5 linked regions of the Homo sapiens genome follow. The protein of the gene in region 3 purifies or fractionates together with the protein of the main gene of each other region. This does not show direct contact. Each region holds a gene or a part of one and is shown on either strand. Other genes may lie near its edges. The genes, in order: MARK3, COP1, MTCL2, AKAP9 and HCN1.

Region 1 (6,571 bases), on a different chromosome or scaffold from region 3:
GAAAAATACAAAAAATTAGCCGGGCGTGGTGGTGGGTGCCTGTAGTCCCAGCTACTTGGGAGACTGAGGCAGGAGAATGGCGTGAACCCAGGAGGCAGAGCTTGCAGTGAGCAGAGATCACACTGCACTCCAGCCTGGGCGACAGAGTGAGACTCCGTCTCAAAAAAAAAAAAATAAATAACATTTGTGTGCATTCATGTGTACGTGTGTCTGTACACATGTACAAGAAACAACCGAGCATTTCTTTAAAAACCTTAGTCAGTTAGAACTGTCTCTGTTGCAGGTGACAGAAAACCCAGTCTAAACAGGCTTAAATATAAAAGGGCTGTTAGTTCATATAACTAAAAAAAGTCCAGGGCTAGAGTTACGGTCCATCTGCTTCTGCCTCCTTGGCCGTAGTTCCATGATTGGGCTCGGCACCATCAGACATAACTTCTTCCCACACACAGCTGTGCTCAAGCAGAAGCCCTCAGGTGGTCTCCTTGATCTGTGTGGGGCCTAGAGTTACTTCCACCACAGCAAAATCTCATTATTGTTGCTGCAGGAAAAGAATGGATACTGAGTGGCAGAAATACGAAACTGGATAAATTTTTGCCTTTATAAGACATTTGTTTCCAGTCCTTCTCAGACTGTATAAATTCTCCCAAGTCAGAGAGCAGAATTCTCAAACAAAAATGCAGGGACAGAACCAGGCACAGTGGCTCACAAGGCCTATAATCCCAGCACTTTGGGAGGCTGAGGCAGAAGGATCAGTTGAACCCAGGAGTTCAAGACCAGCCTAGCCATCATAGTGAGACACCATCTCTACAAAAAATTTAAAAATTAGCCAGGCATAGTGGCACACTCCTGTGGCTGAGATAGGAGGATCGCTTGACCCCAGGAGGTTGAGGCTGCAGCAAGCTGTGATAGTGCCACTGCACTCTAGCCTGGGTGAATACAGCAAGACCCTGTCTCCAAAAATAAAAATTTAAATAAAAATGTTTTAATTCAGGGACAAGCAGTTCTTGATTTTAAAGACGTATCTGCTTTATGTTGGGGCTATCAGAATTCCAGTTGCTAATTGATTAATCTGCTCTGTTAGGAGAACGTTTGTTGAATACCTGCCCTGCCAGGCTTTCTGCTTACACTGGTGGGGGGCACATTGACAAGATTTTGGGCTGTGTTTTCAGGGACCTCCAGCAGAGAAGGGTCACTAGGATACAATGTGGCATGCATGAGCTAAAAACAGAAGTGATTTAACTCTCAGAGGGAAAATGGATCAGATAACACTTCATAGAGATGACGACATCTGGTTCATTTTTGAAGAGTGAATAGAAAGATCCCAGCCCTCCATACCAAGAGAATAACTCCTGCAAACATTTTCTGACCTGGTGCCTGACCAATGGACCACACATCATCAGGAAGGCTAGAAAGTTGAGTTCCAGGAGGGAATGATAGAAGGCAAAGCCTAGAGAGATGGCAGGGGCCAGACTTCAGGGGCCTGGGGATGTGTACTTGCACTCCAAGTCGAGGAGACTGAACTTTTTACCAAAGACTTGGTGTTCTGTAGAAGTATGAGCAGATGAGTGACAAGATCTGGTTTATATGTTAAGAAGTTCTCAGCTGTAAGGTGAATAGATTGGAGGTGTTGGGGCAAAGGCAGGGGACCCAGTGAAGACAAGGAGCGAGGCTCTATACTGAGGCCCTGGTAGAAGTGGAGCAGATGGGCCACCTGAAGAGCTACTAGGAAGTTGACACCAATAAGATGTCGTTAGTCTGTGTATGGGGAGTGAGGGAAAGGAAGAACTTGCCAGTTTCCAGGTTTTAATCCTTCCAAAGGATTTCTGCAGAAAGACACTGGAAGAGCTGTATTCCTACTTATCCTTAAAGGAAAGAAACTGCCCTTGAATTCCAAGGACATGATTACTGAGCTGGAATTCCAAATAATGTGTCCCAGTGAGACTCCTGGGGGTAGTTTTGTCCGGTAACTGTGTGTGTTAGATGAAACTGCAGACTTCCAGCCACTCTATCTTACCATGTCTGTTAACAGTTAATTTGCTCTGATGAATTTGCCCATCTTGGAGAAGGGGGCTCTGCTGACTGTTTTTTATCTTGGAGTAAATGTCCTTTGATTAGGAAGGTTCTAGACTATATTGTTAAAACAACATTGGAAGGCTGGGCATGGTGGCTCATGCCTGTAATCCCAACACTTTGGGAGGCCAAGGCAGGCGTATCGTTTGAGCCCAGGAGTTCAAGACCAGCCTGGGCAACATGACAAAACTCTCTCTACTAAAAATACAAAATTAGCCAGGCATGGTGGAGTGCGCCTGTATTCCCAGCCACTTAGGAGGCTGAGGTGGGAGAACCACCTGAGCCCAGGAAGTTGAGGCTGCATTGAGCCATGATCGTACCACTGCACTGCAGCTAGGTGACAGCAAAACCCTGTCTCAAAAAAACACCAAACAACATAGGATACTGTTATATAACAGCTAGTTCCTATACCTGTAATCTTATTAATTCATTTAAAATACATCAGTGCGGGCCGGGTGTGGTGGCTCACACTTATAATCCCAACACTTTGGAAGGCCAAGGCGGGAGGATCACTTGAAGCCACAAATTTAAGACCAGCCTGGATAATATAGCGAGACCCTGTCTCTACAAAAAAAATAAATAAAGAAAAAATAAAATATGTCAGTGTGTTTTGGGAACAGGTTGAGAGCATAGCATGCTCATATTATATATTCATTTTACCACTTAGATTTGAATTGAGGCATCTCTTAGAATAGGTTTTATTTTGTGCATACCCTCAGAGGACATTGTCCCTCTCATAGAAACAGATATTCAAACATGTAATCTGCTATTTTATTTTAAGGTAATAGATTTTTATGATTACTGTTTGGAAAAAAAAAAAAGCAACTATAGGTTAGCAGTTGCTCCAGAATCTCCAAAACAAGCTTAGGAGATTTTTATTCTTTACCAGAAATGAGATGGCTTGGGAGGAAGGTGTGTGCATTACACACAGGTTGCTCTGTGGTCACTGCTCCTTCATACTGTGTTTCTGCCTCTGCCTGAACCCAAACCCCTCCCAGCCTGACAGAAATGTTCGCTTACGCAGCTAGCCCTGCCTCAGTTTGTACATCTACCTGTCGGCTGAGACATCAGAAGTCGATGTCCATGTCAGCCTCTGGGCACCCCAAGATGATGTTACCTCCAATAGACAGTGAAGGAGATAACTTCAAGGCTATGTAAGAAAAATGCACATTCTTTGTGAAACTAATGTGTACCCACTGCTTCTTAATTTTGTGCTGTGGATTTTATAGTCTGAGATTTTGTTACAGTTGTCCACAAGGCGTCCTTCCTCCATGTGATTTTAGTTAAGCACATCTTTTGTCATGATGTCCTCGGTTGTGTATTGTGTGTCTTCGTGCCTTCGCGTACTACAAAATGTATAAGAAGTTCCTGCTCCTCCCAAGTTGCTTTCAGCATGTGGAATTTTATACATATATCATTTGTTTACTTCCAAAACTTTTTAGTTGCCTGTTCTTCAGTTACGCCAGCATATCCTTTATTTCTTTCGTATTGGCACAGTTCTCTATGTAAGCAATTTGAGAGGGAAGCAAAGGGGAAAAGTTTGAGTTAGCTGTTCTCTGTCCTAGAATTTCCCTGCATTAATCTTGTCCTTGAAAATATATATAATACTGGTCCCTTAAACTCCATGAGGCTTTGTCTCATTATGTATTGTTCTTTTGGTACCCTTTCCCACTTAACTTACCTTTTGCTCCTAAGTCCTATAAAATACCCCTTGGATCTGGATTTTTTATACCCGATTTTCTCCACTGTGTATAAAAGGTATATTGTGACTGTAAATTTTTGTATATCATGTTCTGAGAGCTTCTTACTTTCTGATCTCATAGCACTATTCCTGATCAGAGAACTCCAGTTGCTTCAACACACAGTATCAGTAGTGCAGCCACCCCAGATCGAATCCGCTTCCCAAGAGGCACTGCCAGTCGTAGCACTTTCCACGGCCAGCCCCGGGAACGGCGAACCGCAACATATAATGGCCCTCCTGCCTCTCCCAGCCTGTCCCATGAAGCCACACCATTGTCCCAGACTCGAAGCCGAGGCTCCACTAATCTCTTTAGTAAATTAACTTCAAAACTCACAAGGAGGTAAGTGCTAGGTGCTGGTTGTTTTGGAGTGAACACATAGAGCAAAAGGAAAGATGTCTTTTTTGTTGTGTGAAGCCACTGCTACCTGGATGCTTTTCAGTCTGCCTTCAGCTCATGGTTTTCTGGTTTTATATATATCTAACTTTATACTTTAAAACCTTTAAAGTAGAAATTGTAGAGCTCAGAGTCTTCATAACACTAAAAGTTAACTAGCATTTAGGAGGTTTTTGTTACTGTTCTTTAATTATTGTTCCTTTTGCTCACGTATCTGTCTGCATGGCATGTTCGTTGTTGTTGAGCAGGCAGACCTCGAGTTCTGGTGTGGGGTGGGGGGCTGGCACTCTGTAACAATCAGCAGGAAAGACCATGCATGTCTTTCATAATCATCTCCAGCCCCAGAGGAAAGAGACAGCTTCTCTTTTCTCACTTTATTGTTGTTAAGGAGCAGTAAATTTCTTAAGAGTCCAAATCTTGAAAGTTTCTCTCTCAGTCTTAGTAATTTATATTGAGAGCAAGGTAATGTCCTTAAATGGTATAGTTTTGGAGATAAAATCTCTGGTTTATTATCAAAAAATAATGTTACTATTATTAAGTTATTTTTATTAAATGCTGCATGATTCTTGGCTGATGGTCCTGGAAATTTTTTAAAATGTTCCATGTGTCTAGTAGGCTAGCATCTGGGGCCTCAGTAAACTCTCAAGGGTCCTTTGAGATTAACTTCATTTCCGTAACCTTGTTACCTGTTACAAAAGCCCAGAAATACTGGCTGCTTCAAGAGGAAAAAGAAAGGATACCACTTTGAACCGTAAACAATAGTGAAAGGCACCTTTCCGAGAAGGAGCCCAGGAAACCCAAGAGCCCCTGCAGTTTCAGGACATCCTTGGAGAAATGTTTTGAAATTAAGCCTAGCTGTGGATGAGTCTGTCTGTGGTATCTTGCAGGTTTGCCTAGGACGGACCCTCTTATTTGTCATCTGTAGCTTACAGGACAGCAGTAGGAGTCTTTCCCGAGTCTGAAATGATCAGTACCCTCCTCTGTTTTTCTGCATTCCCTATGGCCTATAGCCTATTACTTCATTTCACTCCATCTCCATTATTTAAACTAAGCTAAATGTAATCTTGTATTCGATCATCTGAAACTTCGGTGAGTCACATTAAAGTCTGATCTACTTATTATTAGGACATGGAATAGATTAGGGAGTATTCCTTTTTTTTTTTTTTTTAATTTTTTTTTTTTTTTTGAGACGGAGTCTCACTGTCGCCAAGGCTGGAGTGCAGTGGTGCAATCTTGGCTAACTTCAACCTCCGCCTAGATTAGGGAGGATCTCTGACATCCATTAGCATTAACTAGAAGTCAGACGCATCAGAAGGTTTCTATTTACCCTCTTACTCACTTCTTAGCCCCTTTATTAAGCCACCTCATTTTAAACTGGGCAAAACAGAATCAGCCAAAGAGCTTTGCCAGGTTTGGGACACCCATTCATGACCAGCCAGCAAGAGAGACAGTGAGTTCAATCTGAGAAGAGTCTGGTGACTCCCAGAATAAACCATTCCTTCCTGGCCAGCCGTGGTGGTTCATGCTTGTAATCCCAGCACTTTGGGAGGCCAAGGCGGGTGGATCTCCTGAAGTCAGGAGTTTGAGACCAGCCTGACCAATATGGTGAAACCCCATCTCTACTAAAAATACAAAAATTAGCCAGGCATGGTGGTGGGCGCCTGGAGTCCCAGCTACCCAGGAGGCTGAGACAGGAGAATTGCTTGAACCCGGAAGGCAGAGGTTGCAGTGAGCCGAGATCGTACCACTGCACTCTAGTCTGGGTGACAAAGTGAGACTGTGTCTCAAAAAAAAAAAAAAAAAAACTTTGAGTTTATTTTTCTTCTTTGTACTCTTTTTTCAGTCATTTTAAGACTAGTATTGGGCTGGGCCGGATGGCTCATGCCTGTAATCTCAGCACTTTGGGAGGCCAAGAGGGGCGGATCACCTGGGGTCAGGAGTTTGAGACAGGCCTGGCCAACATGGCAAAACCCCATCTCTACTAAAAATACAAAAATTAGCCAGGGGTGGTGGCGCTCGCCTGTAGTCCCAGCTACTCTGGAGGCTGAGCCAGGAGAATCGCTTGAACCTGGGAGGCGGAGGTTGCATCTAGCCAAGATCGCGCCGCTGCACTCCAGCCTGGGTGATGACAGAGCGAGACTCCATCTCAAAAAAAAAAAAAAAAAAAGACTAGCATTGATTGGCCAGGCATGGTGGCTCACGCCTGTAATCCCAGCACTTTGGGAGGCCGAGGCAGGTGGATCACCTGAGGTCGGGAATTTGAGACCATCCTAGCCAACATGGAGAAACCCAGTCTCTACTAAAAATACAAAATTAGCCGGGCATGGTGGCACATGCCTGTAATCCCAGGGAGACTGAGGCAGGAG
Region 2 (6,571 bases), on a different chromosome or scaffold from region 3:
ATTATTAGATGATTTCCTCATATAATTCTCTTTTAAAGCCAGTGCTCATGAGAACAGCTTGGGAAGCTTGTTTAGAAGGAAAAAAAAAAAAAAAAAAGCAGATTCTAGAATTCTTCTGAGATTTTTTGGGGAGCAGATCAGGAGTAGAGTCTTAACATACTGTTAGTGTTTAAGAGTATTTTAGGTTTGAAAAGCACTGCTTATAAAGTATAATCTCTAATACAGAAAACATAAACACCATTCCTTCAGTGAAAAGCAGAATATTCTTGTAAAAAAAATTCTTAAAACTAGAAACAATTCTAATATGTTGAGATATGTGCAGGCTAGGGGAAAAATTCCTGATGTTCAAATACTATTCATAAGCTACATTAATCCTCATTCAGTACTCCATAGAGTCTCCAACAACCATGTCCAACAAAGACCTTTATTTGATTAAGTGAAAGAAGAACTTTAATTTGGCAACCAGAAAAAAAAAAAAGGCTAACCTCACAAGAAAAAAGCAACCAATATCTGTAAGAAAGATGATATAAGTAATAATATATACTCTGTATACATAGTACAATAATAGTGTTCACCATGAGTAAAAAGTGTCATGCAAAGGTAAAATAATCTCATGATAATTACATATGCAAATTGTTACATCTATACTGCATCATGTCAAGAAAATAATGTAAATACCTGATTTTCGAATTGCAGGTCATTTCATTCTCAGGGTAATGAATATCCACTGCATCCTGGATGACAGTGTCATATTCATAGACTTTAATCTTCTTTGTAACTCCAGCAATCGCAAAATAGTCACAATCCCGGTCAAATTCAATACTAAGGGGAAAAAGTATGTAATGACAACATTTCAGAATTTGCTATTTTCTATTTCTAAAGTAATTCGGTCTACAAGGATAAAAGATCTACTTTAAATACCTTCAAATTGTACTAGACCTCATATCCAGATTAAGTAATCAACACATATCAAATTAAAAGTTGTTGAGATTTGTGTAATATAAAACTTTTAATATATACATTTGTATATCTACACAATTGTGCACAGGTGTACTTTTGTTCCAAGACACCTGACATGCTTTTCATTCAGTTCTAATAACCATATTACAGCTTACTGAGAAAGATTTAATGGCGTGAATCATTTGATATACTAAAAGTATGCCAAAAGACAATTATCAACTAATTTTTCCATACATTCTACTTATTTCCCTGCCATTTTGTGGAGGTAGTAGAATTTCACAATATTAAATTTTATTTTTAATAAATAAATTAGTATATAATTTGAATTACTGAAGCAATTGGGTGATGACAAGGGGATGGAATACATATAACAGAACCACTGAATTATCATTACTTTTCCCCAAATCCATACCTAATCCCCCTCCCCAAATATCTCTCTGAATTATAAAACCCCAATACACATTCCTCATATCACAAAAGAGGTTAAATAAATAAATAAATAAATAATCTCCTTTCCTTCAGCGTTATTCACTCCTCTCTTGCTGATCATTTTTATATAAGCTCCAAAACAAGCTATTTGAAAGCAAGTACAAGATCATACTCGCTTTTACAGAACTTGCAGCCTAAACACAGTTGTTACATAACCAGCTGGAAATCTAATTAGCCCAAAGGTAGTAAAAGTTGAAATGAATCATCACATACATTATTCCTCAATATGATTTAAGCATCTTTTCTAGAGGTTTAGCGATAAGAATTCTCACTGATCTACAATTAATTACACAATAATACCTAATATTCATTAATCATTCACTTACTAAAACATTTTGCATGTATTACCTCATTTAGTCCTCATAACAACCTGTGATATATGTATTATTATTATCTACATTTTACAGATGAGAAAATGAAGATTAGAGGTGAGGTAAATTGCCCAAAGTTAGTCAATCTGTAAGTGGCTGAGGTGGGATTCAAACACAAGGTAGTCTGGTTTCAGAGCTGGTGCTAATAATTACTATGCTTTATTACAGATCAAAGCTCTTAATGTAAAACTCAAAGTGTAAAGGCTAAAGGTTTAAAGGTTTAAAATCTATGTGTATGAATGTATCTTCAATATCTATGTATGTGTGTTTCTTCTCTCAAAATGCCTAGCTAGTGCTCTGTATCTATTAAGCATTCATTTAATGCACAAAATACAAACACCTACATACAAAAATACAAACATCCATTTTCTTAATATCCATTCACAGAACAGTTAATGATTAATGATTTATTAAGAAGCTTGCTGAACTGATGATGGTAAGTAAGAAAAAGACACATTAAGAATATTTCAGGCTGGGTTCGGTGGCTCATGCCTGCAATCCCAGCACTCTGAGAGACCGAGGTGGGAGGATCCCTTGAGTCCAGGAGTTTGAGACCAGCCTGGCAACATAGTGAGACCCGATCGCTACAAAAAAATGAAACAATTAGTGAGGCATAGTGATGGGTTCTTGTCTCCAGAGACTTGGGAGGCTGAGGTGGGAGGACTGCTTGAACCCAGGAATTTGAAGCTGCAGTAAGCCATGACTGTGCCACTGCACTCCAGCCTGGGTGACACAGCAAGACCCTGTCTTAAAAAACAACTACAACAACAACAAGGACTATTTCCCTTAAAGACACACATTGATACGCCCACTTTTCTTTACAGCTTTAAATGCTTCCTTAATTTTATATAATTTTTTAAAGAATTAAAATTCTTTTTTTTTTTTTTTTTTACAGAGATGGGGTCTCACTATGTCGCCTGGGCTGGTCTTGAACTCCAGGGCTCAAGCAATCCTCCCACCTCAGCCTCCCAAAGTGCTGGGATTACAGATTTCAGGCGTCAGACATGGTGCCCAGCCAATTTAAAAAAAAAATTTATTCAGTTAAGTGTCACTGACTAGGGCACAATTCAGCAAATGTTCCCTCCAGTAAAGTATGATACTATAGCAATGCAGTAGATTTATTTGTACAACCTCAATTGAACTGCTGCCTCAGCTACTACTTGCTGCCATGTGGATTTTAATGCACCATAACTATAATGATGACAACTATTCATCTATCCCAACTCAATTTATACCCATAGTCTCATGTCACTGAAGGAGAAATACTACTTTATCTGGTAAAGGACAGAGTTATTATCAGAACTGAAATCCTGTTTTTAATTTAGGAGGTTTTGGTATAGCTGAGACTTCAAGTGAACTAGTTATCACTAAATACTTTTTCTCCGCCTACTCATATACATAGCTAATCAACACCATTCCAATGTTGTGCCAGTAAAAGTATGCCATTACTAAACTATTAGTTTTAACATATATAATACGTTTAAACACTAACCTATCAAAATAATAGCTTAAATACATTACAGGGAGAAAACTGACACATAAGTAAAAATGCTGTCAAAAGAATTAAGGGCCGGGCGCGGTGGCTCACGCCTGTAATCCCAGCACTTTGGGAGGCCGAGGCGGGTGGATCATGAGGTCAGGAGATCGAGACCATCCTGGCTAACAAGGTGAAACCCCGTCTCTACTGAAAATACAAAAAATTAGCCAGGCGCGGTGGCGGGCGCCTGTAGTCCCAGCTACTCGGGAGGCTGAGGCAGGAGAATGGCGTGAACCCAGGAAGCGGAGCTTGCAGTGAGCCGAGATTGCGCCATTGCAGTCCGCAGTCCGGCCTGGGCAACAGAGCGAGACTCCGTCTCAAAAAAAAAAAAAAAAAAAAAAAAAGAATTAAGATGATGACCTAAATATGTCTATTATTTCTTCTGCTGGTATCCTGTTATTCAAGACAGCTCTCTCTCTTTTTTCTACATGTTATTATTTAGTGACATTAGCTAACTCTTAACTCTCATATTAAAAAGTTAACTTTTTGTTTTGATTTCATTGCTATTATTTTCTTACATTTTGGTTATGTTTTGTTTTTAATATATTAAGGTATCAAGAACCTGTAGAGTATGTTTTTAAAAATATTTTGGGGGTAACAAGATCCTTTTATACTGTAAAAATAGATTTTAATAGAAATATTAATCAAAAAGTATAAAGAATAATATTATTTCTAGAAAATTTTGATTAAAAGGGAAAGAAAGACAAACAGGTCCCCCCCCTCAAACCACCTTTTTTAGTGGAAGAACTTCCACATCACTAAGACTCAGGATTTAAGGACTTCTAGATACTGAAACATTTGCTCCCTATCTCTGACATATTTAATCATATATATTCTCAAACATGAACATAATGAGATTCTAAAAACAGATCATGAACTAACTGAAATGAACACTGTAATTTTCAGGTGCAGAAAGCTTTCTAGAACTAATACAAAACAGATGACCTCTTATATTAACAGTATGATATTTCAACTACTTTTATTATGAAATCTGATAACCCAAGCAAAAGTACTTCAAAAGTTAAACAGTGACTAGTTAGGCTGAGACTAAATAAAAGGTAAACTAATTAACTGAAATGTTGCTTATGCAATTAAATTCAAAAACAAACTTTAAGTCTTACTACTGCTATACAACGTTCATTTCTGCCATCCACTGTCAGCAGTAATAATTAAAACAAGAGATTTATAAAAATTTACTGCATGACAAATTCAATTTCACAGAATTTGTTTTTAATTTCAACATACAAGTATACTTTTGAAAAATCGTGTTTCTGGGGACATAAATTGCATTTTTCTTTCACATTTTGAAACATTTCAACTGTTAAAAGAGTGATTTATATCAACAGCTGAAATACGTAATTCAGCTGTAGGAAACTAGCTGTATTCTTTGTCAAAAATGTCATTAGTCAAGTGATTAAGCAGCAAGGCAAGAAACTGCACAGGACAGCTGATTAATGCATACTGCCAGTACAATGCGGCACAAAGCAATGAAAGCCGTCAATAAGCCCAAGCAGTGAATTTTGTCAGTGTTTCCAATGTCTCTCATATCTTTTTGCAATTATAAGTATTAACAAACATGGTGGATTAGTGTCCCTGGATGCTAGAGCCCAACTTATATCAAATTAAAATATAAAGTAAGAGCAGTTGTCAAAGGTCTCATTCTCATTCATTACCATGATAGTGTGCCTCAAGAGCAGGTAACTAAAACTTTAAGGAAACAAAATATACGTTTAGAAACTGGCCATTTTAACGAAAAGTGATGAGCAGATCTTTAAAAAAATACAAACACAAGTAAAGTAAATTAAGAATTGATGTTACTCAACTTTCTTCCAATCAATACTACTTGAAACTTCCATAACATACATAACACTTGAGATGTGTCAAGCATTGTTTTAACCACCTTACATAAATTATACAAGCTTCAAATCTCCACTGTATAAAGAAACTGAGGTATACTAATGTTAAGTAATTTGTCCACGGATACACCAGATAATTCAAATTTAAGCAACTGGTTCCAGAGTCTATGCTCTCAATCATCATGCAAACTTGCAATTTCAATTAGAACAAATGAGCTGGTCTTCAATGAACATATACACAGGCAAAATAAGAATAATAACACAGAATAATAATATACATTACATTATATATAGTGATAATAACACATAATTCAGCCTGTGCAACAATTTAAACACAAAGGGATAAAAAAAAGAATAAGGTAGCCTCACCGGTTTTATAATTAGTAGAAGAGATTACAGACAATATATGCAAATGTCAAATGATAGGACAAAATATTGATAGAGGAATTCAGGAGGCAATGATTATTGGGGCTCATTCGAAGAAAAGAATGAACCGTGAATATTTTCAGCCATCAAATGTCCAGAGTGCCAGTTATCTGCTGGATACTAACATAGCTGCTGAAAAAACCAAGATGTTAAAAAAAACACATTACAGTTATGTGCTATTTAAGGACATCTTATGTTCCCACAAATTATAATGAAGCTGAACAATTCCTAACTTAATGACTTGCAGTGCAACAACACGATTCTCAGGTTTGTGGAGAAGATGGTGTGAACAAACCTACCATGCTGCCAGTTGTATAAAAGTACAGCACACACAATTAATGTACAGTACATATACTTGAAAATAAACAACTGTTAATGGTTTGTGTATTTACTATACTATACATTTATCATTACTTTAGTGTATATCTTCTACTTATTTTAAAAAAAAACAAACAAACTGTAAAGCAGCCGCAGGCAGGTCCTTCAGGAGGTATTCCAGAAGATCTTATCATAGGAGATGACAGCTCCATGTGTGTTACTGGCACTGAAGACCTTCCAGTGAGACAAGATGTGGAAGAGATCACAGTGATTCTGTTGACCGTGACCGTATGTAGGCCTAGGCTAATACATGTGTTTGTGTCTCAGATTTTAACAAACAAATAAAAAAAATTAAAATTAAATTTTAAATAGAAAAGGGTATGAAGAAAGGATATATTTTTGTATAGTTGTTCAATGTGTGTTTTTAGCCAAGGGTTATTGCAAAAAAATCACAAAGTCAAAAAAAAATTTTTAAGTTATAAAATAAAAAGGTTACAGTAAGCTAAGGTTAATTATTGAAGAAAAAAATTTAGATAAATTTAGCTAGCCAAAGTGTGCAATGTTTATAAAGTCTACAGTAATATACAGTAATATCCTAGGCCTTTACATTCATT
Region 3 (6,367 bases):
AAACTGCAAATGCTGTTGGGTTGGGAGGGGTAAGGCATAGAGTTGGGGTGAACTGTAGATTCTGCCAGGACAAGCAGCTCTGAGAGTGGTGAGGTCCAGAGGAGAATGGAGAGGATGGTTGGATACTGAATGGACAAAGAGATGGATCAATGACCAGAGACAGGGAGAGAAGAACCTGTCAGGCAGCACCTGCTTTACAGTCAAGGCCATCTGGGCCTGGGCAGGGCAGGGGAGGAAAAAGGAGGGATCCAAGCCCCCCCCACCCACCACCACACACACGCCCATTGCAAAGTGCTGGGGCTGCTGCTGGCAGGCTGCTTACAGAGAAGACAGTGTGGCTTAAGGGTGGCACCGGGGGGTTGCTGGGGCAGGGTGAGCCCAGTGAGAAGGGCTGGCAGGGCTGGTGCCTCCTGATGCATTGGAGGAAGAGGCTTTTTTTTGTGTGTGTGAGAAAACACAAAATAAATAAACACAGAACCAGGACACCACCACATTTGAGAGCAAATATCAGAGTTGGGAAACCACAGACGCGGACAGGAAGGCTTCCCTGGTAGGAAGCAGGGGGACAAGAAGCCAGTTACTGAGGTTACGGGAAAATCCGCACGAGGCAGCAGTGCTGGGAAGAACATCCTGGGAGGACTGAGGGCTGAATACTATAGTGAGCTCCGGACCCAGAAGAGGAAAACCTGGCATGGACCAGGGCCACTCCATTTGCTGGCAGGAACCAGCCAAGGAGAAGAGGAGGCAGGAGGACAAGAGGCTTTGGAGGGAGATGATAAAGAAAGAATGGGTGAGTGGTGGGAAGCAGACTGAGCCCAGAGAAAGGAAGGGGCTAAACCAAGATTACAGAAAGTCAAAGCAGTGTCTCATTCACTACTGGGGATGCAAGACCTGTTAGGAGTCAGGAAACCTGGGTTCTGGTCTTGGCTCTGCCTCTGGTTTGCGATGTGACCTTGGGTGAGCCACTGCCTTCTCTGGGCCTGATTCCTCATCTCAAAAAATGAGGGGGCTGGACACAAAAGGACAAATACTATATGATTCTACTTAAAAGAGATACCTAGAATAGGCCAATCCACAGAGAAAAAAAAAAAGTAGAATAGAGGTTACCAGGGACTGGGGACAGGGGGAGTGGGGAGTTACTGTTTAGTGGGTACAGAGTTTCAGTTTAGGATGATGAAAAAGTTCTGGAGGTGGCAGTTACACATTGCAAATGTACTTCGAGACACTTAGAAATCTTTAAAATGGTAAATTTAATGTTATGCACATTTTGCCATCATTCTTTTAAAAAGGAAGGGGTTTAGACCAAATTATGTTATGGCCTCCTTGCTATTCATGAAGACTAGTGAAGGGGGTGAGGAGAGTATTGTCCCCCACCCCAGGGCCAGGGCACTGAAAGGCTGGGCTGGGGACACTGAGTGTGATCAGATCACTTTCCATTTGTGTAGAACCTTACACTTTTCCAAGGAGACTCGCAGGCACAGTGTTGCAGTTGGTCCTCACCACAGTTACATGGGGTGGGACATTATCCTCACTTTACAGATGGGGAAACTGAGGTATAGACTAGAAACATGATCTCGCCAAGGTCAATCACGTTGGTGGATTATTTATTTTTTTAAATAGTCACCTGGAAAACATCCTTGCATCTTAGGTTCACCCGTTGACTCACCAACTGGCTCAGTGGCCCTTGATGAAAGGATACATGCTATAAATTAGTAGAAGAGTTCGTCTCCTGGGGCCAACATGCTTGCTTCCCATAATTGGATGATAAAAATTATAAATCCTGATGTGTTTCTCTTTTTACCAATGGCTGTCAGGAAACTCAAGAGTAAAACTTAATTGCATGATTATGGGAATTACACCAGTTAGATTTACAGAATAATTTCTCTTGCTTTTTTACTTCTTATTTTTATTTTACTGAACCCCTATGATTAAGATTGTAAATAGCCTCTGATGCTTTTTGAAAATCCTGAGTAATTAAATCAGTTTGGTTGAGGACTCGATCCCTTAAGTCCCTGCTCAGTGCTCTTTTTAAGATACAGCATCATGTTTATTGGTTAAAAGAAAGATGAGGCTGGATGCCGTGGCTCACGCCTATAATCCCAGTACTTTGGGAGGCCGAGGTGGGTGGATCACCTGAGGTCAGGAGTTCAAGACCAGCCTGGCCAACATGGTGAAACCCCGTCTCTACTAAAAATAAAAAAATTAGTCGGGTGTGGTGGCACACACCTGTAATCCCAGTTACTCGGGAGGTTGAGGCAGGAGAACTGCTTGAACCTGGGAGGTGGAGGCTGCGGTGAGCTGAAATGGCGCCACTGTACTCCAGCCTGAATGACAGAGCAAGACTCTGTCTCCAAAAAAAAAAGAAAAAGGAAGATGACCTGGCACGGTGGCTGATGCCTGCCTGTAACCCCAGCACTTTGGGAGGCTGAGGAGGGCAGATCACTTGAGCCCAGGAGTTTGAAACCAGCCTGGGCAACATAGGGAGACCCCCTGTCTCTAAAAATAATAATAATAAATAATAAATAAATAAATAAATAAAATAAAAAATAAATCTAAAAAAACTTAAAAAAAGAAAGATAGCCTAATAATCAGGGCCACGAACACCAATGGTGTGGCCAATAGTGCCTAAGATCCCCCGGGGAGGGCTGGTTTTATTTTTTATTTTTTTTGAGACAAGTCTCATTCCGTTGCCCAGGCTAGAGCGCAATGGCACAATCTCGGCTCACTGCAACCGCTGCTCCCCACCAGGTTCAAGTGATTCTCCTGCCTCAGCCTCCCAAGTAGCTGGGATTACAGGCATGTGCCACCACACCTGGCTAATTTTTGCATTTTTAGTAGAGACAGGGTTTCACCATATTGGCCAGGCTCGAACTCCTGAGCTCAAGTGATCCACCCGCCTCAGCCTCCCAAAGTGCTGGGATTACAGGTGTGACCACTGCACCCACCCCTCAACCCCAGGAGAGTTTGTTAAACATGCAAATTCAAGGTGGGGCCCAGGAATCTACATTCTGAACATGCCCTCAGAGAATTCTGCTGAATGGGGACCTCAGATCACCCTCTGGAATACACAAGGCTCAGTGATCTAGAATGGACTTGTTTTATGCCTGGGTTGGCCAGCAGCATATTCTGGGTATTCTGGACCCACCAAAAGCCCCCAGCAGGGCAGCGGATTTGCACAGCAAACAGGACAGAGTTGGACCCAAGTTCTCATCTAAACTCAGTGACTTCTCATGCTCTGGGATGAGACCTGTACCTCAGTTTCCTCACAGCAAAATGGGCGCACTAACCCATGTCCTGCCAAGGCTGCCTCCCAGAGTTGTCCCTGAGAGGTCTGAAGGAGATGTGGGGTGGGAAACGATTTCTTTTTTGAGATTGGGTCTCACTCTGTCATCCAGGCTGGAGTGCAGTGGCGCAATCTCTGCTCCTGCAACCTCCGCCTCCTGGGCTCAAGCGATTCTCCCACCTCAGCCTCCCGAGTAGCTGGGATTACAGGCACGCACCACCATGCTCAGCTAATTTTTTGTACTTTTAGTACAGACAGGGATTCACCACGTTGGCCAGGCTGGCGTTGAACTCCTGACCTCAACTGATCCGCTCGCCTCAGCCTCCCAAAGAGCTGGGATTTCAGGCGTGAGCCACCATGCCCGGCCAGGGGAAACGTTTTCTATATAGTAAAGTGCTTTAGGCGGGATGTGCAGGGGATGATGATAACCATTGTTATTACTATTATTATGGAAGAAGTAGTGGGAGCTTGGGGGGTCTGGTGAGGCTAGAAGCAGGGGACATTCTAGATAGGAGGGGAGAGGGAGAAAGAGCCTGGACGCTGGGTGGGCCAGAGGAGAAGAGGCTGGGTGATGAAACCATAAAAGTGCATGCGGGTGGACATGATGGAACCATGTCAGCAAGGGTGTAAGAGGGTCAAGTCTTTGGGCCCTTGGCCTTGTCACATCGGAAGCCAACCGGTAGAAGAGTGCACCTGGGGACACCTAGAGGTGGGACCCATCTTGAGTTCATAGAAAGCAAGACCTCTTAGAGGTCAGCCTTTGGTGGGAAATAAACTGGGGGAAAGGGCTGGCACAGGGTCAGAGGATTGGATTCTGATGTCTCGTGTGTGCAGGCCTAAGAGCCACTGATGCACCAAAATGACTTGATTTGCATTCCAATGAAGTCATCATTCCAAAAGGGGCTGATTTGGCTCTGGAAAGAGGTGAGACATAAGAAACATGAGGTTTCCCAGTTTAGGGCCATCATGCCAACTGGTCCCCCATTTCCGCCAACCAACTGATGCCAACCCCATGGACCCAAGCCAAGTGGTCTATGGGGGATTGAGCCCCGAGGGTTCCTTGGGACTTTGGTTGAAGAGAGAGTGGAGATGGGGAAAACAGAAAGAAGGATAAAGGAGGAGAAGAAGGGAATAGCAGTAAAAGGCAGAGAGGCAGGAGGAAGGGGGAGAACGGGTTCGAGAAGGGCAGCATTCCTTCTTGGGACCCCAATTCTCCAGGGAATCCCCACTGTGGGTCAGGCAGTTTTCTGCTTTGGGAATGTTACCAAGACTTAAAAGGCATTTGAAGAAACCAACAAACTTAGAAATCACATTCCAAAAGAGTAGAGAATTTTTACAAACCAATCCCCCCACCCCAAAAAAGAAAACAACCAGTTACCAAGTAAAATGCTAAAAACCGAACCAAACCAATATTTACATGTAACATTTTCAACCCCATCCAGCCCCACGTCCAGAGGCTTCTGCAGGAACAGTGATGAGTGGCCTTGCACAGTGGCATGCAGGAAGTAGAAACTGGGGCTTTACTGAAAACCAAGGTCTGGCTGAGACAACAAAGATGGCAAGGACAATCCTGGACGGTACGATGGTAAGGCTGAGTGGTCCGTAGGTCTTGGGGCTCAGGTCCCACGGGGATTTCTCCCCGAGGCTGAGTACGCAGCCTCCCTGGCTGTCGCTCTGGGAGGTGGCAGAAGGCCTCTGGTGGCTTGTGGCCTGATGTGAATCCCCTCACCTGGAGATAACCTTGGAGGGCCCCCCTGACCTCATGGGTGAGAGCAGCAGCATCCAAGAGCGGAACTGGCCCACAGCTCCACTGGCTGCCTGCTCTGCCCACACCAGTCACTGGGGCATGGAGGAGGCGGCTGGCGGGACTGGCATGACCCTGGTGTTCAGCCTGCAGGGAAGGGAGATGCAGGACTTGGGGTAACTGGTCCAGGTGATCCCGAATGGGTGGGTCTGGGAACTGGCAGGTGGGAGGTGGGAGTGCAGGGGCGCCTCCAGAGTCCTGGGGGCAGATCAGCAAAGCTACTGGCTTTTGGTCTTCCTGATGGGCAATTCTGCAGACAAGCTGATCCATCCTGGTGTTTCCACTCTGGGTCCCCAGTCAGTTACAGGAAGGCTGATGTCTATGTGTGTGTGGGGAGCATGTGTGCAACCAAAAGGGGTTCACCGGCACCAAGGCGAGGCCATGGGAGGCGCTGCCCCACATGCTGCAATGAGCCACATCGAAATCCAACCAATGGCTCAGGCAGCTCACAGGGGACGTGAGGAAGGGCGGGCAGCAGAGCTGGGGCAGGGAGAAGAGCCGTGAAAGGCCATAAGGCTAAGGAGAGAGGCTGGTGAAAAGGCTGGCAGGCTGGTGAGAACCGAGGCAGGCTGGGAGACACTCAGGTTTATGTGCAAAGCTGCGATAAACAACATTCTCAAAGTTCAGTCCTGTTTTCCTGTGAGTTCTCATTTGGGAAACTTGGAGGGATCTCCACACTCTTAATAGAGCTTTAGTAATCCACGTTCGACTCATGAAGAAAGGTGTCAGAGGGAGGGAGGGAAATGAGACAGGCAATGGAGAACGTCTGGGGAGTGGTGATGGCCGTCCAGCCCTCCACCTTGTCAGTGAGTATTTATAGACTGACCGCTGGGGCTGGCCAAGTACCAGGCATTGAGTAATAAGTAGTGTTCTGAGGCCACATGGCCAGCCGTGTTGGGGTGCAGGGCTCCAGCTCTGTTGAGGGGCCCTCCAAAGCTGACCAGGAGGCCAGGTCTCCAAACCTGGCTGCCAAGCGGCCTCGTCCACCCAGGGGACCCCATGCCTGCCCGTGCTGTTAGAGGCCTCATGTTGTCCCAGTGGCAAGAATGCATGTTTCAACCTCCAATAAATTACCTTAGGGACTTTGGGGTAAATTAAATTATTAAAATAAAGTAAACCACCTTAAATATTTATAGTAGGAAAAATTCAAATAAACAATCTAGGCAAGATACGTGTTTCCAGGCCCCAGTCTACTGCTGTGTCCTGGGCTCTGGCCTCTTGGTGTTCTCCTGGGCCTGACCTGGCCAACCAAGAATCTCTTACTGGGAATATCTTTGCCC
Region 4 (6,571 bases), on a different chromosome or scaffold from region 3:
ATTTTCATACTTATTATTACTTAAAAGGAATGATAACATAACATGCATATTAGAAGCAAATTAAGAAAAAAATCCCCATAAATCCTAGAGAACATTTGCTAAAATTAATGTTTCTTAGTTTCTTCTGACTGCTCCATTTAATGATGATGTTAATGAAATAAATATCATATTTAAAGACCATAAAATACAGTCTGTATCCATTATTTTAGTGATAATAATATGACTACACAGTGTTAAGTTAAATTTGGCCTGAGGCTGTCTCTGTATCTTGAGTTCCTATGTAAGGAACTACAATCTAACTTAGGAGTACGTAAGCAAACTGAAAACGTATCTTAGGAGTATAATAAACAGCCAACTCTTAGCTAATGACAAGCAGTCAACTGAGCAGACTGGGTCCAAATAAGGCAAACACCTAACTGTAACTAATCAAGCTATTTCTGTATTTTATTTGGTAGTTCTGTCTATAAATATTCACTGGCCACTGTTGCACAAAAGAGATTTGTGAAACTCCTCTGGTTCTGAATGCTACCCAATACGTGAATCCTTTTTTGTTCAAATAAACTCTCGTAAATTTAGTTTGTCTAGTTTTTCTTCTTCTTTTTTTTTTTTGAGATGGAGTCTCGCTCTGTCACCCAGGTTGGAGTGTGCAGTGGCGCGATCTTGGCTCACTGCAAGCTCTGCCTCCCGGGTTCACAGCATTCTCCTGCCTCAGCCTCCCGAGTAGCTGGGACTACAGGCACCCACCACCACGCCCGGATAATTTTTTGTATTTTTAGTAGAGACGGGGTTTCACCGTGTTAGACAGGATGGTCTCGATCTCCTGACCTCAAGATCCACCCGCCTCGGCCTCCCAAAGTGCTGGGATTACAGGCGTGGGCCACCGCGCCTGTCCTAGTTTTTCTTTTAACAAGAGTTTATTTTTTATAAGTGGTATATTTTTATAAAAACCTTCTTGTATAAATTGTTAGATGTAAACAGAACACCATATTTAGTAAATTAGCAATCAGCTTAGTTTCTTGGGGTATTTAAATGAAACTAATAAAATACAAAACTAACCTTGAGAACTTCAACATCTTGAGGGCTTCTTTTCTTTTCTTTCTCTCTCTGTTTTTTCTCATTGCCCTCCAATAGCTTCTGTAGTTCTAGCAGCTTCTTTTCTTTTTCTAAAACATTTTTTTCTGCAATTTCTACTTGTTCTTTTTCTAAAATCAAACTAGTATGCATTTCAACAACCTGGCTTTCTAATTCTGATATTCTCAAGGTTAATGCTGATATATCTGACCCCAACTCATCTTCTCTTAGTTGATTTAAATTCTGAATATTTGTTCTTTCAGGTTCTGATGAAATTGTTTGATTATCTTGACAGAATTTTGCATATTCCTGAACTGCCTCAAGTTGGATTTGACTGACAAGAGCAGCAGCCACTTTTTCTTCAACTATTTTCTGTAGGTTTACAATCTTCTTTTGAAGCATTTCTGTTTCAAACTGGCCTTGTTCTTGCATGTCTTTTATTTGTTTATAACACTGGGTAAGTTCTAAGTCCTTTGCACTAACAGTGCTCTCAAGTTGTAGCAACCTTGTTTCCAAATTAATTATGGAACCTTTGCCATTTTCTTCAAAAGATTTGAAGTATGTCTGATTTTCTAGGGATTTAAGAGCATCCTCTGTAAGGACTACTTCTAGTTCAGGTTTGTCTTTGCTCAGATGATCTATAGCCACGTTAACACTATTCTCTGGTATGCTTTGAATCTTTTCCACACTTTCACGTTCTCTCTTTAAGCTGAATAATTCCTGTGTTAGCTGATTCATTTTAAAATTGGTTTCTTTAAGTACATTTTTCATGAAGGTCATTTCTTCATTAGCGGTTTCTACTTGCTGTTCCAAGGCCAGCTTTTCAGCTATAACCACATCCAATTGATGTTTTAAACTGTCTGCTTCTTCTGAGAGGGAATGAGCATTCATTGATGTCTTCTGTCCAATATTTGCCAATTCCTGTTGAAGTTTTTCAATCACTTCATTGAGCTGCTCTATTTCTTCTTCTCTATTTCTCTTCACACATTCTTGATCACTCATCAAACATTCTATTTGGGTTTCAAGATCCCTTATCAGTTCATTTTTTTCTTCAATAACCTAATAATTAATGAAAAAGGTAACATACATAATATATATGTATTTACATTTTGAAAATTTTACTTTATTTTAGGGCAGTACCTCAAAGAGATGATCACACACAAAAATAATACACTACTTCTCAGACATACTACTTAATTTCATTATAGACCAATATCTCCCCCATCATATCAAACAAGGCTCAGAAAGTTCTGTTAAGTATAAAGTAATATAAGCTTTTAGTTGCTGATTCCCTATTAGGAAAATAGTCAATATCAATACTTCTTAATGGAAAAGGATGAAGTACGGAAATAAAGTCTACAACCGATGGCACCAAAGGTAATTACCTTACTTAACTCATATTAAATATTATAATTTATAATAGATTTGGTTAGAATAACATGATAAAATCTAAGTCACAGAGCCTTTCTGAAAAACATTAGAATCCTATGACAATATTAGGAGGGGAGAAAAATACATATAAATTATTAAACCAATGTGTCTTTGCTTTTTTTTTTTTTTCTTTTTGAGACAGGGTCTCACTCTGTCACCCAAGCTGGAGTGCAGTGGCATGATGAGGCTCACTGCAGCTGGGACTACAGGTGGTATGCCACCATGTCCAGTTAATTTTTATATTTTTTGTAGAGACAAAGTTTCACCATGTTGCCCAGGCTGGTCTTGAACTCCTGGGCCCAAGCAATCCGCCCACCTAGGCTTCCTAAAGTATAAGGATTACAGGTGTGAGCCTCTGTGCCTGGCCACCAATGTGTCTTAATAAATTAAAATTAATAAAAGAGAATTGGGCCAGGCGTGGTGGCTCATGCCAGTAATACCAGCACTTTGGGAGGCTGAGGTGGGTGGATCACCTGACATCAGGAGATAGAGACCAGCCTGGTCAACATGGTGAAACCCCATCTCTATTAAAAATACAAAAAATTAGCCAGGTGTGATGGTGGGTGCCTGTAATCCCAGCTACTCGGGAGGCTGAGGCAGGAGAATCACTTGAACCTAGGAGGTGGAGGTTGCAGTGAGCCGAGGTTGCACCATTGGACTCCAGCCTGGGCGACAGAGCGAGATTCTGTCTCAAAAAAAATAAATAAAATAAAATAAAATAAAATAAAATTGGTTTGTTTTTTAAATTCAATGGGGAGCAACATTATAACCATTTTGCCCTTTAAAACTCTGGTTCATATTAATTTCATAATCAATTTTAAATGAGTATACCTTGTTATCTGTTGTAATTTTAAGTTGCTGCTGGAGTTTCGTAACTTGTTCATTTAATTGGTCAATTTCTACCTCTTTTTCCTGTATTATTTGAGCAAATTTCCCAAATAGCACATGTTGGTCTTGAGTAGACATGGCATCAGATTCCTTTATGGCAAGTCCCAGTTTCTCCATGTCATCCTAGGAACAAAAATAATTATCACAGTTGGATATATCATTACCTATCATTTTCAGAACATAATTACAAAAGAAATCAGAGCCTATAACGTACAAATGAATAAAATCAGAGACACCATATGGTTACTGTAAATCAATAATTCTAAAATATTTTGATAAATGATCCCAAAATTTTCATTTATGATGAATTCAAATGTTCAGGTTGGGCTGAAAATAAGCTGTATGCAAATGTGTCTGCCTGTTAATGTTCCTCTGTTGAGTATTATTTAACAGCTGGATTTATCGAATGCTTAATAAAGCAATATAGGGGCCAGGTGTGGTGGCTCACGCCTGTAATCCCAGCACTTTGGGAGGCCAAGACAGGCGGATCACGAGGTCAGGAGATCGAGAGCATCCTGGCTAACACGGTGAAACCCCATCTCTACTAAAAATACAAAAATTAGCCAGGCGTGGTGGTACGTGCCTATAGTCCCAGCTACTCGGGAGGCTGAGGCAGAATTGCTTGAACCAGGGAGGCGGAGCTTGCAATGAGCCGAGATCACACCATTGCACTCCAGCCTGGGCAACAGAGTGAGACTAAGTCTCAAAAAAAAAAAAAAAAAGAAAGAAATAATAATAATAATAATAATAAAGCAATATAGGACTGAAACTATGACTTATTTACAGATAAAAGTTTTTCTTAACTAATTACCTTAAATAATTTGTTTTCCTGTTCAAGTTCTTGTAGGCGGGTAGTAGATTCCTTTTTCTGTATTTCTAATTGCATATGTAATTGTTGAACTTCTTCATTCTTATTTTCCAGTTCTTCTCTAAACTGTTCTAATTGCTCTTCTAAGTTTGTAATCTTTAATAACAAAATTATCAAAAGAGAAAAAATGTTTATACAAACGTTTATCAAGATAAAATGAAGAGTGCTATATTAGCTTTACAAAGTATGCATGCTTAAAACATGAGTCATAAGAATAAAGGAATGTGGTTTTTCTAAGCCAGGTATAATCTGTGTTACCTGTGTGGTTCCTAGACATGCTCAAACTGGCCATCCTTAAACTATCCTACACAAAGCAGAGAGGAAACCTCCTGAGGAAGGATAAAAGGAGCCATTTCCTACCTTAGTCTCTTCTCCTGAAGCAGAAAAGAGTCATAGGAGGAAGGGAAAGAGTCCACATATTAAATCTTAGTTTATGTTACATTAAGTTGCTATCAAAAGGCCTAGAAAAGTTGTAGAACTGTTTGTTTTGTTAGCCACCATATAAGACTAACTCAATTTAGTCCAAAAATATCTAATTAACTTACTAAAAGGCCTGGCTGCCATGTGGTTTGTTAAGCAGAAGGAAGCCAAGATAGAAACTAAGACCAAGAGATCCTTAGGTCTGAATTACAAAAACCTTAGAGTAAGTGAATTATACAATTCAGGAGAAAATTAGAGAGCTCCTATAGGTAGGACAACAGAAATTTATTTAATCATTTTGAGGATGGATTATGAATAATGGTAAAGCAACTGCTTTTTGATGGTTAGAGACTGAAACGAATGATGAATATTAAGAATTATTTTTATATTTGAAAATTGGTTTTGACTGAGGACAGTAACATTCATTTAGCTCACTGGTTTGTTGCTACTTAATACAAAGTGAATGAATGATTTCCAAATGTGTATTTACCTCATGATCAAAACTGCTGATCAAAAAGCAAACTAAGATGCAGGAGCATCTCTGTTATCTAAGGCAACAGAGCCTATCCTCAGCAACACTTAGTGACAAGTGGCTCAGAAAGCAGCTTATGAATCATTTACTGCCTTAGAAACTGAAAGAGGGAATCGCTGATTACACACTAACACATCACATACTGAGAACCATATCTGAACACTGGCAAATCCTTAAAAACCAGTTAGCTTAGTATTTCCTAAACAGTATCAATACTAGTAGTAACAGCCATCACTTGTAACAGTTTACCGCTAAGCACTGCACAAAGTGCTTTATATGTATTATTTCTTAAAACCCTGTTACAACTTTATAAGATCTGTTCTGAGTATCCCCATTTTAGAGATGAGGATGGACGTCACAGAGAGGAGTAATTTGCTTTCAGGCCACATGGCGAGTATGTGGAGAAGCCAGCTTTTGAACCTGAGGAGTTTATCTCTGAATCTTCCACTCTAAACTATCACTTATCCTGCTTCTAATAACTAATGTCTAAGACTTACACTTAAAATTTTTTCTGTAACACTGGTTATTAAACTCAGTAGACACTGAAATACATTTAATGACTGAACATAAATAATTACCAGGTTGCTGAAAACTGCAATGATTATATCTTCTTCAAAGTGATTTAACATAGTATTTACAACTATCCCTACATTTCTGTAACTACTTTGATGACAAGGTATTATTTTAAAATCAACACATAAATAGTTATTTAAGTTCAAATTGCTGCCCTATCTCATACGAAATTTCCTTTTTTTATACAACAGTTTATGATCAATTTCTTAACTTTGTGACATGAAGCCTTGCTATTCAGTGTGGTCTCGAGAGCAGTAGAGTTGGCATCATGTGGGAGCATGCTGGGTGTGCAAAATGCCATGTCACACCCCACACTTGTGTTTTATTTTTTTTTTAATTTTTGACTCATTTTATTGTTTTACAGTAATCAGATAGGAAATGAACTCTATTATATATTCCTTTTTAATCTTTTTTAAAAAATTATACTTTTCTGGGATACATGTGCAGAATGCATAGGTTTATTACACAGGTACACACGTGCCATTGTAGTTTGCTGCACCCATCAATCCGTCATCTACATTAGGTGTTTCTCCCAATGCTATCCCTCCTGTACCCCTCACCCCCTAAAAGGCCCTGGTTTGTGATGTTTCCCTCCCTGTGTCCATGTGTTCTCATTGTTCAGCTTCCACTTATGAGTGAGAACATGTGGTGTTTGGTTTTCTATCCTTGTGATAGTTTGCTGAGAATGATGGTTTCCAGCTTCATCCGTGTCCCTGCAAAGGACATGAACTCATCCTTTTTTGTGGCTTCATAGTATTCCATGGTGTATATGTGCCACATTTTCTTTA
Region 5 (6,571 bases), on a different chromosome or scaffold from region 3:
CTATAGGAATGACGGTAATAACTTGACTATGTACTTTGTAGTGTCCTGAAAATAGTATGCTCAGTTAAGTTTATAAATTGCAAAATAACCATCTCTTTAAAGTGGAACAGCATTCATCAGGGAATTGTTCACTTATGAAGAGGTCATCCAGACCTGGAGACAAGCTACTTTTTTGGTGAATAGAATATATTGCCATTGCTACTATTTATCCTCCTTGTTTTCAGGAATGCTTCACTACTTATTCTCATTATGATAAACTCTATCTCAGGCTTTTAGGTATCATTTAAAACCCACTTGTGTGGGGAGGTTCTATCACTCTCCAAATAACTTTGCAGGGCCCAAGGCTATAAATATGAATATATTTATACAAACCTATTTTGTTATAATAGGGCCTTGGGCCTACTATACAAACCTATTTTGTTTAAGGCTATAAATATGAATGTATTTATATAAACCTGTTTTGTTATAATAGAGCCCAAGGCCCTATTATAACAAAATAGGTATGTTATAAAACTATTATAACAAAATAGGTATGTCATAGAACTATTATAACAAAATAGGTTTGTATAAATATATTACAGGACAATTATTTACCATTATTACAGGAAAATTATTTCTCATCTGTATATCCAATAATTACACAAAATGGTTGTGTTTTGAAGTTGGAGAACAACCACATTCTAAAAAGGCACAGAGCAAAAAAGAAAATAAGCTCATATTTTACTATACGAAAAAGGTAAACAAAGAAGTGGTTGAAAAATCCATGTTCTATTTAAAGTCCTCTCATTCCAGAATTATAGAATATAATTGATTTTATGTGATTATCAAGTATAAGCTCTTGGAAATTTTATGATGTAAAAATAGAGGCAAAGCTGTACTCATTAATAAAATAAAACATTTGATTAGCATATATTGATAAAATAAAATATTCATGATTGTAGTTTATTTTTTGTTGAATTTATTAATAATCTTTATATATATTTATATATGTATGGCTTTGAGCAAAGACAAAAGAAATACTCTAACTCATCCCTGATCATACAGTTGTTGTAAGAATCAGCTATTCTATTATCTTTCCAGCAGCAGAAAGACCAATGAATAATACATTTCTTTCTGTACAGATTAAAACTCCATACATACGGGCTTCACTATGTACAGAGAAAAGAGGTCACTTTTCAACTAGCAATGGACCTTTATATTACAGGAATGTGAGTCATTTTTTTTTCTTAATCTAAGTATATATACATTCATACATATATGTATATAATTTACCCTGTACCTTTTTATTAGTTTAATATATAAACCTTAGTTTTTTTGTCCATTCTATTACAAAGTGAATAAAAATTGTATGGTTGCACTGAAAGACCATGCATTTCAATTTTGCTTATGTTTCCCAATAGTGCTCAAAATAAAAAACCAAAAATTTATATATATAAAAATATTTCACTACCAAATCCATTAATCCTATCAAATGTAAACCTTTAATAATTTAAAGGACCAATACGTAATCTTAATAAATTGAAGTTAATTCTCATATTTTAATAAAATAAAGGAGTTTTGTACTGATATGTAAATGGTCTTGCAGCTTTCCCATAGGTTCTAGGTAGACTGAACAATCCCTTTCTTACAACAGTATTCCTGACATGCCATCATATGTCACCAGCATATTGATGATTACATTACATCGACTAGCAGTTAATTACTTCCACACCAGTTGGGATTTGTTTGAAATTAAACATAACAACTCATTTTGGTATTATAGGTATTATATCCACAAAAGGCATAACAGGCAGCAAGGATCCACTTTAGAGTTTCTGCTTTTGTTTTTGTTTTCTGTCCTCAAGTCTATCTGCAGGCCCTGTCCCACATAATGTGTGATCTCTGTATGTTCTTAAATGTATTGCCAGTGCCAGAGATACTGAAGACCTCCACTTTAAGTCATGCTCTTAACTTGGGTTATTTACCGCAGCCAGTTGTTAGGAATCTTTCAATTGTGTTCCAGTCATACTCCACATGTGTGGGATGCATTAGGCACAAATGATTACTAAGGGAGTTCTTTGAGAAGAAGCAGGTGCTCACAGATCATGTAAAGAGTTAAGAAAACAGACAGACAATGCTCATAGACGTTCAACTTTACCCCTGCTTTCTGTCACCATGTCTGTACTATTTTCAACACATTAAAAATGACAAACCTCCTATCTAAGGGCTACGTTAGTCACCACATGCCTTAAAGTTTACTAACCATTTAGTTACAATATACATAGAGCAAAATGTGTGTTCCCAAACAGACGTGATGCTGTATTGAATTTATTTCTTTAAATTAATACCATAGTAAATTACCAGCTACAGTGAAGACACAGACAACACTTAACTCCAAATCAAGCTGTGGTTTACAAATAATTATTTAAATAATAATAGCAATAATATTAAATAAAAGTGAAAACCTCACTTCTAGACTTAAGTCAGAGATCCAAGTCAGCCTTATAGGAATTATAAGATAGGCAATTAATGAATTGTTATGCTTTTCTAGAAACGAGAAATACTGTAAGCCTTTCTCTACAATGACTGATTTGAACCTATTTTTTTTTCCCCAGAAGCATGCAGGGACTATTTTCAGATGCTTGATTATGGCAAGAAGAAAGAAAAGTAACGATTTTTGGTGTAATACAAGCAATTTGTAGATTCGAGCATACAATTTTGCATAAAACATTGCAGGTTAAAATAATATTGTAGGTTTCAAGCCATTGCATTACAATTGAATAATTCTCACAATCAGGTTTTGTAAAATTTAAAACTCTAAGTTTTGAAGTGAAGCAATAAAACTAAATTCTTAAACAATGACTTTTACCTTCATACAACACAGAATAGCTATTTTTATTTGGGTTGAAAAAGTTATTTACAACTAACATTGATCGAGTCTTGGTAAAAGTCCGATAACACATGAAGACAAATATTAATTTTCCCTCAGCTTTCTGAAAGATCAATGAACATGTTTGAGGTTAGTGATATTCTTAACAAACAGTGGCAATGCTAGTCTCCTACGGTGGCCAAGCAAGTAGTGCATTCTTTAACCTAATTTGAAATTGAAAGCACCGAAATACAATTTAGATCTATAAAATGGGATTTGTTATTTAATTCTCCACCATTAATGATTAACAATTTAGATGCAGAGACACAGCTAATGAAAGAAAGTTTTGATTGGTGCTATTTACTAGTTCATTTGAGTTGCCTTTTTAAAATCAGTTTTGTTTCCATTGAATCCAAGAACTCTTCATAAAATAGAGAAATATACATATCAAAGGACTTAAGTAAAAGTAGGTTAGAAATAAATAATCTTACAACGACATTTTAAATCCTTTAATGATTTAAAGAAAGGAAGACATATAACACTGAATGCTAAACAGGTCTTTTGACCCTCTCTTGGGAATTTAGATATATATTTTATAGTATATGTATATATATTTTTACATTTCACGTGTAGGCCACAGCTGTCTAAAATATCTCTTCATAGTAGGCTAGAGGGATCTATCAGGAGATAGAATAAAATAAGATCTGAGTATAGTCTCAGTTTATGAGAGTATTTCTTTCTGCTTTGACAATCAGCAGGGATCATAAATTTGAAGCAAATCGTGGCTTTTCTGCGTCTGGGTCTGTGTTTAAGACTGAGGAAGATTCTCTTGGAAGAGCAGCTGCTGGTGGAGGGGGTGCTGGAGGGACTCCTCGGTTCGGGGGGATGGCTCCCGACGACATCTGTCGGAAGAGGGTGACGCGCTGCGGGACAGTGCTCCTGCCCCCTGCCTGAAGGCCCGTTCCGGGGACCGCCGTCACGGGTTGAGGGATGGAGGCCAGGGACTCGCCCACAGTGGGATGAGGTCTGGAAATCAGAGTGGACACCTCATGGGGCAGCGAGGGCTGCGAGGCGGAGAGTGGCCTGACTTCCCGGGTCAGGTTGGTGTTGTGAAGCGCCTGCGTGCTCTTGTGCACTTCATTTTTCGGCGTGGAGCTGCCAGGTGTCTGTGGCTGCGGGGACGGCTGCTGTGGCTGAGTCTGCGGCGGCTGGGACTGCTGTACCTGCTGCTGCGGCTGCTGTTGCATGAGTGACAGCTGGGAGGCGGTGGGGGAGGCATAGTGGAAAGTTCGAGCGGCCAGAGGGCTCTGTACAGGAGGGCTGCAGACCGCGGTGGTGTAGGAGCAGGGTGACAGGATGGCTGATGGCTGGGGGGTCTGTGTGCTGGGACTGGGGGAGTGCAGGTTGCTGTGAGACAGGCTGGTCGCTGTGTACACCGGTGGAGATTGTGTCCTCATGCGGGAGGTCGGGGTCGTAGTAGACGATGTGGAATTCAGGGTTGTCATTTGAGGATAATTGATGGGAGCGATTGCCTGCACCATCTCCCTGTCATGTTTCACAATCTGCTTGAGGATTTCGTTCTCCTGATTGTTGAAAACACCAGTGTTCAGATCCTTCTGGAACTTTTGCAGAAGAATTGAATTTTTCTTTCCTGTCAGCAAAAGAAAGATAGGCACTTAGAAAGCCTACCAATGACTGATGACAACGCCAAGTGAGAGTGGCTCCTGCAAACAGAAGTATAGCTGTGCTTCACAGGAGAGGCTTAAAAAGCCAGTCACTCACCTTTACACACCAAATACCAATGTGGCTCCTACCTTTCACACTTCCTGTATTTCTCTGGGAACTCTTACCTTCTACTCAAGTTGAACGGCCTGTAATATGGCAAAGAGCCACTTTACAGAAGAAATGGAGATATTTAACATGAGGGCCACCTTGAAGAATGGGGGAAGAAAGGGCTTTTGGAATAGGATGGGCTTGGAATCAACATTTGATTTTAAAGTTACTTTTTCAAGAAAGGACCATGGAGACATAAGCGAGAACATTTGAACACGTACTATGTGATAAGCACTCTACAAAAGACCTTAGGTAGATGATTTTATGTAACCCGCGACCCTGTCAGATAGGTGTGTTCATAATCTCATTTTACCTGAAAGGAGATCAGGACATGAGAAGACTAAGAACAGTGCCCAGGAAAACAAAAAAAAAACATGGTTGGCAGGTAACAGGGCTGAGAAAGACCATATACACAAAAAAGTGATTGCACATCCTTGCTATGGAAAATGAACCAACTGCCCCTGTCTCATCTGTGTGCTTGCTAGAAACTCAGCCTCCTGGGCCTGACCCCACTTGCTGAATCAGATGTTGCATTTTACTAAGATCCCCAGGTGATTCCCAAATGCAAATCTGAGGAGGACTGTATCAGGTTTTGCTTTTGACCCAGTGTCTTACACCAGTCATTCTCAGTCCTAGTTGGATATTTTTCTTATCTCTGGAGCTTTAAAAAATACTAACATCCACTTGTTCCCTACCAATTAAATCTAAATAATCATACATGGGCTCTGAATTTCAGTAGTTTAAAAGCAAATTTCCCCAGGAAATTCTTTTTTTAAAATTTATTATTTATTTATTTTATTTTATTTATTTATTTTTTTGAGACGGAGTCTCGCTCTGATGCCCAGGCTGGAGTTGCAGTGGCACCATCCCAGCTCACTGCAAGCTCTGCCTCCCGGGTTCATGCCATTCTCCTGCCTTAGCCTCCTGAGTAGCTGGGACTACAGGTGCCCGCCACCGTGCCCGGTTAATTTTTTGTATTTTTAGTAGAGATGGGGTTTCACCATGTTAGCCAGGATGGTCTCCATCTCATGACCTTGTGATCCACCCGCCTCGGCCTCCCAAAGTGCTGGGATTACAGGCGTGAGCCACCACGCCCAGCTTCCCCAGGGAATTCTTAAATGCAGCCAAGACTGAGACTGACTTTATGATCTTTCCTCTTCTGAATGGTTGTTGTGAGGACCAAGGGCATAGTGCATTGCAGGCTCTCAGCTCCCTCTAAGACCTCAATAAATTTTACCTTTTCCTGCCATCATCTTCTGAGTGGTTTGCAATACAGCTTTTCCTGCCATCATCTTCTGAGTGGTTTGCAATACTAGACAGTCTCTGGCATAATAATTATTAGAATGAATAGTGGATTGGTGAAAGAAGGGGAAAGTAGTGACTTTTCTATGGCATCATTGATACACTAATCTCCAAGTGAATATGGTAACTGAAAAGTGAATCAATTTGCGATATTGCTAAATAAACTAACACATTAAAGGTAACAAAATATATTTTTGAAGATAAATATGTATTGTAATTTCATTGACTGCTAGGAATGCAATCATTTTAAATGACTGCCAAAATAGTTACCTCTCCCTACTTACAGACTGTCCTAATTTCCCAAAGAACAAAAACTCCTACATTAGTAATAAATATAAATGCTTATTTAGCATATTTGCTTAACTAACTGCAGCATACATCTATATGCAATGGCCACAAAACCGAGAAGCATAATGTTTCTTTCTGATTATGTGAACAGTCAAAATATCTTAATCTAAGTATCTTTAACCTTGGGAAAAATAATGTAACTTTTAATACACTCTTACTATGTTATAAAGATCAAAAATTCAATTGCTTAGTGCCTATTAGAAATTGCATTGCCTGTATTGATTACGAACCATTTCATGT

What was found.
Region 1: the proteins of MTCL2 (region 3) and MARK3 purify together in Homo sapiens (affinity purification with mass spectrometry; 2 studies listed by BioGRID and IntAct, with this or other methods). This does not show direct contact.
Region 2: the proteins of MTCL2 (region 3) and COP1 purify together in Homo sapiens (affinity purification with mass spectrometry; one large-scale study listed by BioGRID and IntAct). This does not show direct contact.
Region 4: the proteins of MTCL2 (region 3) and AKAP9 purify together in Homo sapiens (affinity purification with mass spectrometry; one large-scale study listed by BioGRID and IntAct). This does not show direct contact.
Region 5: the proteins of MTCL2 (region 3) and HCN1 purify together in Homo sapiens (co-immunoprecipitation; one large-scale study listed by IntAct). This does not show direct contact.

Annotation. Positions count from the first base shown.
Region 1 is NC_000014.9:103,487,884-103,494,454, forward strand, and holds part of MARK3 (MAP/microtubule affinity-regulating kinase 3), read left to right. Parts: intron 1-3,893; coding exon 3,894-4,151; intron 4,152-6,571. UniProt on the Homo sapiens protein: Serine/threonine-protein kinase. Involved in the specific phosphorylation of microtubule-associated proteins for MAP2 and MAP4. Phosphorylates the microtubule-associated protein MAPT/TAU. Phosphorylates CDC25C on 'Ser-216'.
Region 2 is NC_000001.11:176,045,503-176,052,073, forward strand, and holds part of COP1 (E3 ubiquitin-protein ligase COP1), read right to left. Parts: intron 823-6,571; coding exon 679-822; intron 1-678. UniProt on the Homo sapiens protein: E3 ubiquitin-protein ligase that mediates ubiquitination and subsequent proteasomal degradation of target proteins.
Region 3 is NC_000020.11:36,779,185-36,785,551, forward strand, and holds part of MTCL2 (microtubule cross-linking factor 2), read right to left. Parts: 3' UTR 1-6,367. UniProt on the Homo sapiens protein: Microtubule-associated factor that enables integration of the centrosomal and Golgi-associated microtubules on the Golgi membrane, supporting directional migration. Preferentially acts on the perinuclear microtubules accumulated around the Golgi.
Region 4 is NC_000007.14:92,074,638-92,081,208, reverse strand, and holds part of AKAP9 (A-kinase anchor protein 9), read right to left. Parts: intron 4,355-6,571; coding exon 4,202-4,354; intron 3,514-4,201; coding exon 3,334-3,513; intron 2,131-3,333; coding exon 1,057-2,130; intron 1-1,056. UniProt on the Homo sapiens protein: Scaffolding protein that assembles several protein kinases and phosphatases on the centrosome and Golgi apparatus. Required to maintain the integrity of the Golgi apparatus. Required for microtubule nucleation at the cis-side of the Golgi apparatus.
Region 5 is NC_000005.10:45,258,312-45,264,882, forward strand, and holds part of HCN1 (potassium/sodium hyperpolarization-activated cyclic nucleotide-gated channel 1), read right to left. Parts: intron 4,500-6,571; coding exon 3,610-4,499; 3' UTR 1-3,609. UniProt on the Homo sapiens protein: Hyperpolarization-activated ion channel that are permeable to sodium and potassium ions. Displays lower selectivity for K(+) over Na(+) ions.